Linked DNA regions of Homo sapiens. The protein of the gene in region 1 interacts with the protein of each later gene in a pairwise test. Each region holds a gene or a part of one and is shown in the gene's direction. Other genes may lie near its edges. The genes, in order: SLC41A1 and SLC23A2.

The links.
Region 2: the proteins of SLC41A1 (region 1) and SLC23A2 interact in a two-hybrid assay, tested with the Homo sapiens proteins (one large-scale study listed by BioGRID).

The regions. Positions count from the first base shown.
Region 1 is NC_000001.11:205,792,550-205,796,368, reverse strand, and holds part of SLC41A1 (solute carrier family 41 member 1), read left to right. Parts: intron 1-890; coding exon 891-1,025; intron 1,026-1,350; coding exon 1,351-1,499; intron 1,500-3,819. UniProt on the Homo sapiens protein: Na(+)/Mg(2+) ion exchanger that acts as a predominant Mg(2+) efflux system at the plasma membrane.
Region 2 is NC_000020.11:4,879,347-4,883,165, reverse strand, and holds part of SLC23A2 (solute carrier family 23 member 2), read left to right. Parts: intron 1-3,819. UniProt on the Homo sapiens protein: Sodium/ascorbate cotransporter. Mediates electrogenic uptake of vitamin C, with a stoichiometry of 2 Na(+) for each ascorbate.

The DNA.
Region 1 (3,819 bases):
GCACCACCTCCCACCACCACATTTGGGGACCAAGCCACAACATGAGTTTTGTTGGGGACAAACTATATTCAAACCATAGTAACGAGGGAATAGCATTATAGGAGTCCAGTGAAAGCTCTGTCTTTGCCCCCAACATGGGGAAGCCAATGCTGAAAAGCAGGGAGGGATTGGGAAAGAAATACCTGATCTCTCTCTCCACCTGCCCTCTGGTTGCCTGCTGTTGCCTCCCACTGAACAAACAGTGGAAGCAGCCAGCAAGGGAGACTGGGTAATGCAGTCTGTGGAGACCAGTCCCCCAGAGCTCAGAGCAAGGCTGAGAAGAGCAGGGAGCAGGTTGGGATGTGAGGGCAACAGAGAAATCAGCACAGGTCCTGGCGGAGATACCAGATTCCAGAGTTTGGAGCTCAAACCTGATCCTTGAAACTGGTTACCAGAATCAGCATATGACCATAGGATGCCTGGGTCTGCTCAGAGCATTGGAGAGGAGGTGAGGCGGTGAGGCAAGGCAGGGCTTCATCCCCTCAGCTGTGTAGGAAGGCAGGTGCCCATGCTCTACTGGTGGAGAAGTCAGGCTCTCTGAGTCTGCAGATCTGCACGTATCCTTTCCGGCACTGTCACAGCTTTGCCAGGGGAACATGGAACTGCTGCATCTCCATAGAGGGGAGGATGGGGGAGGCTGGAAGATGCACTGGAAGCAGGGGTCTTTGTCTTCCTTCTTAGTGCCTTACTCTTCTTTTGGGGACTGGTGAATGGGTGATGCCCACATAGACCCTAAATTAAGACAGAGGACAGTGCCTCTATAGATAGAAGACAAAGAGTGAGAAGATCATTTTGTTCCCACTCCTCCCTCTGACCTCTGTCTGTGTCTAAGCCCGTATGTGTCTCTGCAGGTGTTGGGGGCAATCTGGTGGCAGTGCAGGCCAGCCGCATCTCCACCTTCCTGCACATGAATGGAATGCCCGGAGAGAACTCTGAGCAAGCTCCTCGCCGCTGTCCCAGTCCTTGTACCACCTTCTTCAGCCCTGGTAACGGCAGATTCCCAGCCTCCCAGCCCTGGGGGGAGTGGGCCTACTGTCAGTGAGCTTCACTTAAGAGACAGCTGGGGCCCCAGATCCACAGGTTCTCCTTCTCTGCTGGGCTGTGCCAGCTGTTCTGAAGGGCAGAGCCCAGGCAGGAGGGCTGTCTTTTCCTGGAGCACCCTAGGGGTTGGAGACCACAGGATGCAGAAGTAGAGACATTCATCTGTCTGTTGCCCTGGGGTATGGTGCCGTCCCTCCTGACTTTGAAAGGCCTTCTGGGGCCAGGTCTTCTCCTCCCCTCCTCTTTACACCCTCTTTTCCCCAATTCCAGATGTGAATTCTCGCTCAGCCCGGGTCCTCTTCCTCCTCGTGGTCCCAGGACACCTGGTGTTCCTCTACACCATCAGCTGTATGCAGGGCGGGCACACCACCCTCACACTCATCTTCATCATCTTCTATATGACAGCTGCACTGCTCCAGGTACAAAGTGGCAGGAGCAGGGGCATGGGAAGGAGCCAGGATGCCCTGCAGGGATGGGAGAGGAGGCCAGACTTGGCCTCTTAGACACTCAACCTCCTCTTTCTCTGTGTCAGGGCAGCTGATAAACACCAGACAAGGGTGCAGGAGAACAGATGGTAGTTCCAGTAGAGTCACCAACATGGTGTGTGACTTTGACCCTGTTCTTTTACTACCCTGATCCTCAGCGATACAGTTGTAAATTGAGAGGAATGGACCAGGGGTGGTAGTTTTCATGCAGGTGGTTGTAGGATGCTGAGCCTGTGGGGTTTGCATGCCAACCCCACTGGCCACAGAGCTCCACATGGCTCTGTTTTGCATGTTGAGCTTTCTCAAGAAATTCATTTGCATAAAGCATCCCATAGCTTGAAAAACTGTCAAAACCACTGCACTAGATAATCTGTCGGATCCTGTGTAGCCTTGCCATTCCATAATACCATGACACTTTCTCCCTTCTTGTATTATTACATTGTAAAAGCTTTTTATTTTGAAATCATTACAGATTTGTAAGAAGTTCTCAAAAAAAAGGTTCAGAAATCCCATATACCATTACCCAATTTCCCTCCATGGGAAAATAACATTTTGCATAACTTTAGGACAGTATCAAAATCAGGAAATTAGCATTGATGCAATCTGCAGTGCTTATTCAGATTGAACCAGTTTTACATGCACTCGTGTGTGTGTGTGCGTGTGTGTTCGTTCTATGCAGTTTTTATCACAAGTGGAGATTTGTGTGACCACCACTATAACCAAAATACAGAAAACTGTTTCATCACCACAAGGCTCCCTTATGCTATCCCTTTACAGCTAGATCCACCCTTATTATTACATTTTAAATTTTTATAGGTTTGATTTTTGAATAGTCACATAGTTCAAAAATGTTTTAAGGTTCATAGAGAAACCTCAGTGAAAAGTCTTCTTTTCTGTCCTCTTCTTCACAGCCATCTGTTTCTCTCCTTCACAGACCATCAGTATTATCCCTTTCTTGTGTGTCCTTCAAACCTATTCTATATTTATAAAAGTAAACATATATTTTTCTTATTTCCTTCCTCTTTTTTACACACATGTAGTATACTGTACACACTGTCTGCACCCTGCATTTTTCATTTAAGTTTATCTTTGAGATCATTCCATATCAATACATAAAGAGAACAACACCCTGATTTTCTTACAGCTCCATCATATTCTGTGATACACAGACCATAATTTTATTTCGCCAGTCCTGTATTGATTAACACCTATCCCTCCAGCCCCCTCACCCCCAGCTTTAGAAAGGTTGTGTTCGGACATCTTGGCAGGGGCGGGGCTGAGAATCAGCCATATGCTGTTGCCCTGCAGCAGTTAGCCAAGCTGCCACATTCCATTGCTAGTGGGTTCCAGTGCAGCACGTGGTGGGAAGATGGGGGTGGATATGCCAGGGGTCTGTGGTGGAGGTTTTCAGCTCATCCCTTGGCCTGAATTGGAAAGGATGAGCCTCAGTGCCATCACCCATGATGAATACCCTGGAGACATTCTTGCCTCTGCTGTCCTCTCTAGATCTGTGGAGGGCCAGAGCGTGACACTTGATCCCCTGTAAAGGCTCTTATTGATCCCTTTGCCACCTCCTCCCAGCTGTGTGTCCTGGGGCCTGCTCAAGAAGCTGGAATGTGAGGACAGCTGCTACCATTCCCTTCCTAGGGCATGTCCCAAAGGCCTCCTGGCCATGCTCTTTATTTGGGACCCTTCTGCAGCTGCTGGAAAGGGTGTGAAGTTATGGAAGGTAGGGGAGCCAAGGCCGTGGTAGCACAAGACAGCTGTGTGCAGAGCAAGGGAGAATGTGAAGAGTCATCTCTGGCTTCCTTGGAGAGAGGGCAGGATTCTCTCAGGCAGAGCCTAAAATTTAAAAAAAAAAAAAGAGAGAGGACAGGAGAGCAACCAAGATTGCCTAAAAATAGGTATCAGTTCTGGCTTCTGGATCCCTTAAGGGCTGTGGTTCCCGCATCTGGATCCCTTAGGGCAGAATTTTCATACCACAGTATTTACAAAGTATAGTCAAGGGTAAAACCTCCCAGATGACTGACTGTATTAGAGCTTGACCGTCAGAATCTGTTTCATTCTCACGCAGATGCAGTCATTTAGGGAGCCCAAATGTCAGGCACTGTGCAGATTCTAGGAGATTCAGGCCTGCCCCACCGTGGTATTCTAGATCAAGGGCATCGCCAACTTAAAAGCGCATGTAAATCTTGTTAAATGCGGACTCTGACTCAAGAGGTCCAGAGATTTTGCATTTCTAACAAGCACCCAG
Region 2 (3,819 bases), on another chromosome or scaffold:
GGGTGGGTGGTTGGGGGAGGGACATAGTTTCTGCCAGGGTCCTGCTAGTCAGTGCCTGTCCTTTTGTACAGAATGTCACATCCATTAAAGATGTCCCTTGCCCTTTAAGTAAAGTTAACATTTTGTGTTAATGAAGTCACAGGGGAGTTTGATAATATTACTGATGATTAGAGTCACAGAACTCTTTGTAACACAGAGCCCACATTCTCTATGTGTCTGCAGAGCATGTTTAAGAGTTGATTATGTGTAGGTATATGGTTCCATTACTCTGGAATTTAACCAGCCAGTACAACTCCTAAAACAAAATAAGTCATCACATAAGAGAATTTTTCATTTGCTCTGTTTTGTGAAATAGTCTGCAGTTATTTAATAACAGGTGGTATTTATTGATCTTTTACTATGCATCAGTCCTTTATATAACACTTGTATATAGTATCAGATAAGGCACATCCTAGTGTTATCCCATTTAACAGCAGAGGACACTGAGCACCACGACGTAATGTGATTTGCCCAGAGTCATACAGTGAATTAAGTGGCCACCGTGGGTTTCAAAACCCAGGTGGTGGACATGGGCCCGAACCCATCATACTCAATCCTGTTCTGTGTATTAGAACATGACGTACAAATAAAAGGGAACCATAGCAGAATTGTTATCTACACTTTACAAATTAAATTAAGGTGTGTGAAAATATCAAGTTTTTTTTTTTCTTTAAACAAGGTTTGAAGGAGACACATCTCACACATGAGCATGAATACCCATCATCATGCTTTCCCAAAATTGTTCTTTTTTTGCAATGGAGTCTCGCTCTGTTGCCCAGGCTGGAGTGCAGTGGTGCGATCTTGGCTCACTGCAACCTCCACCTCCCGAGTTTAAGCAATTCTCCTGCCTCAGCCTCCCGAGTAGCTGGGATTACAAGCACCCACCACCACACCCGGCTAGTTTTTGTATTTTTAGTAGAGACGGTTTCACCATGTTGGCCAGGCTGGTCTCAAACTCCTGACTTCAGGTGATCTGCCCACCTTGGCCTCCCGAAATGCTGGGATTACAGGCATGAGCCACCGTGCCCAGCCCAAAATTGTTCTTACTATTCTCATTTCACCAAAGGTTGGTCAAAACATTCTTCACACCAGCAGAGATGGGAAGATGGCATGTGAGAATAGTCTTTCAGCGAAATGTAATTAATGCCAAAATGGATAAATTGTAGGTATAGTACAGTAAAATTTGAAACCAGTAACAAAAGGATGAACAAAACCCACAAAGCACTTACAAGCTTAAAAAAAAAAGTGTTAAAAATCACTCTCAGAGAGGAAATTGAAACTTTGCAATTAATTACTGATAGTTTAGGAAATGATGGCAAGAACAGCACCAGTCACACTTAGTAGCCAGAGGTGTTCTCAAGAAAATTCACAACCTTTAAAGCAGATACAGCACATGAAGAATTTCAGTAACTAAGAAAACAGGACAAAAAAATGAACCTAGTAAAAGCAGGGGGAACGAATTAATAAAGATACAGAAAATGTGACACAAATAGAAGTGGTAAATCTAAAAGCTGATCTCTTGAGGGGGAAACAAAACCCAATGTAGACAAACTTCTGGCAAAGCTAAGCAGGATAAGAGGAAGCCTGTGCACATAGATCTGCCACAGATCCCGTCAGAGGGAGCAAAACTGTTACCTCCCCCCAAATTAAAACAAAAAGTAAGAAAATAGTGGTTTTCAGAAAACTTAAGTAACCAAAATTGACTCCTCCTCACTCTTATCTCTAAGTATGGGGGTGCCTCCACACTTGATCCTGGCCCCCTTCTCTCCATGCACTTCCCCCAAGGAAATCGCATTTCTTTGATGGTGGATAGTTCCATGGAAACCTGTAGTTCAGACCTGTAAACTCGATACTTACAGATCCAGCCCCTATTTTGCCCCTCCACTTACTGTTACACAAGACATCTCCATCTGTAAATGAAAAAGCCCCAGACTTTTGATTCCTTTCCTGCCCCTGAAACCAGTTTCTTCTGCTTTCCTCCTTTCGGTGAATGGCACAACCGTGCCCCTAGTTGCTTCAGCCAGAAATGTCTATCTGTTCTTCAGTCTTCCTTTCGCCTCATCCCCCACACAGCCCATCCTGCCCTTCCTCCTCCGGAACAAATTCTGAACCCGTTCTCTTTTGCAGGCCTTCACTGCCGCCACCCTCTGCGAGCCTTGCTCGCCCTTGGCCATTGATTCCTCACTGTCCCCAGCTTCTCCCTCATGTCTCCCAGGGGTCCTCCTCTCTCCCCTCCTTTTGAAACATCAGTTAGACACAAGCTAGAATTCTGGAAGCTTTGGGGTTTTCTTACTGTTCCAATGTCTGGAGCCTCACGTGCTGCCCTCGGTGGGTCTGCTTGCGTCTCTTGGCCTGGATACCTGGAGCCCCTTTGCTCTGAGCACCCAGGCATGCAGAGGTGGGACATGATCTTGAATTATCTAGATGCCTTCCTCCACTCCACCCTTACTTGTCTCTTTCTGGAACCTCTTCCTGAAGCCTCCTGGACTCTTCCTGTTTCCTCTCCTGTTTTCTATCTCTTTGTCTTTTTTCTCTATTCGTGAGAATTCTCCTTTGCTTTATCTCTTATTCCTTCTGCCAAGATTGTCATTTATGCTCTGGTGTTTTTTCAGTTTCCAAGAGCTCTTCTGTATCCTTGGGCTGTCAGCTCTGTGAGAGCAGGGCCTACGCTCTGGGTGGGTCACCTCTGCACCCCCAGCACCTGCCCCTCCCGTGGCTGAGCTGGTGCTCAGTGAGCAGGTTGTGAACTAATAAAGGAAGGCTCAGGAAGCCCGGTAAACCCATGACCACAAGAGCAGCCGAGATAGTTGCTGAAGGACTCTGATTCCTAAAAGAAGCCCTGGGCCCAGATGGTTAGACAATGAGTGCATTCAGTCTTCAAGGAACAGAGACTATATGCACTAACTTGCAAACTGTTCCAGAGCTCTGTGAAAGGAGGGAAACTCCCCAGCCAATCTTAGCGGCAAATTCTGACTGAACTAATACAAAAGGAGAACCATGGACCATTGTTTTCTTTCCTGGGGTTGTGTTAAAAAACAAACAAATCCTGAGCTGATGGATGTATTGCGGCACATTCTAAGCAACGAGCCCTGAGTTCAAATGTCTTCAGGTAGCGTGCTAAAGTTCAGCATCATTCTCTACTGTAAGACTCCTTCCAATCTTTCAAAATGCAAATGCGCAAAAGACTCTATTCACCTTCAGAAAAGGGCCTTAGTATCCAGCCCTGTCCACCCTTAATTTGTTTTTTAAATGTCACACATCTATAAGCATATCTTGACAGACTATTCCTTAGAATGTTGTTTGGGAAGATGCTGCTACAGATAACACAATGAAAGAACAAGGCATAATGCGTCATTTCAAGAATTCACAGATGATCAAATATTAGAAAATGTGTTGAAATCGATCATGGCTCCATGGTAGGTTTTTTTTTATTTGTTAAATTTTGAGACAGGATCCCGCTCCATCACCCAGGCTGGAGTGCAGTGGCACAATCTCAGCTCACTGTGGCCTCTGACTCCTGAGTTCAGGCGATTCTCATTCGTCAGCCTCCCAAGAGTACCTGGGACTACAGGGTAGATTTTATTAATAAGGTCTTATTGATAAAACTATGGTAATAGTCCCTTCCCCTGAATTTTATTTTTAAAATTCAACCTACATCCTTGTTGCAAACTTAGCAATGTGAGAATAGGAGGATTTTTTTTTTTTTTTTTTTTTTTTTGAGACAGAGTTTTACTCTGGTTGCCCAGGCTGGAGTGCAGTGGGGCAATCTCGCTTACTGCA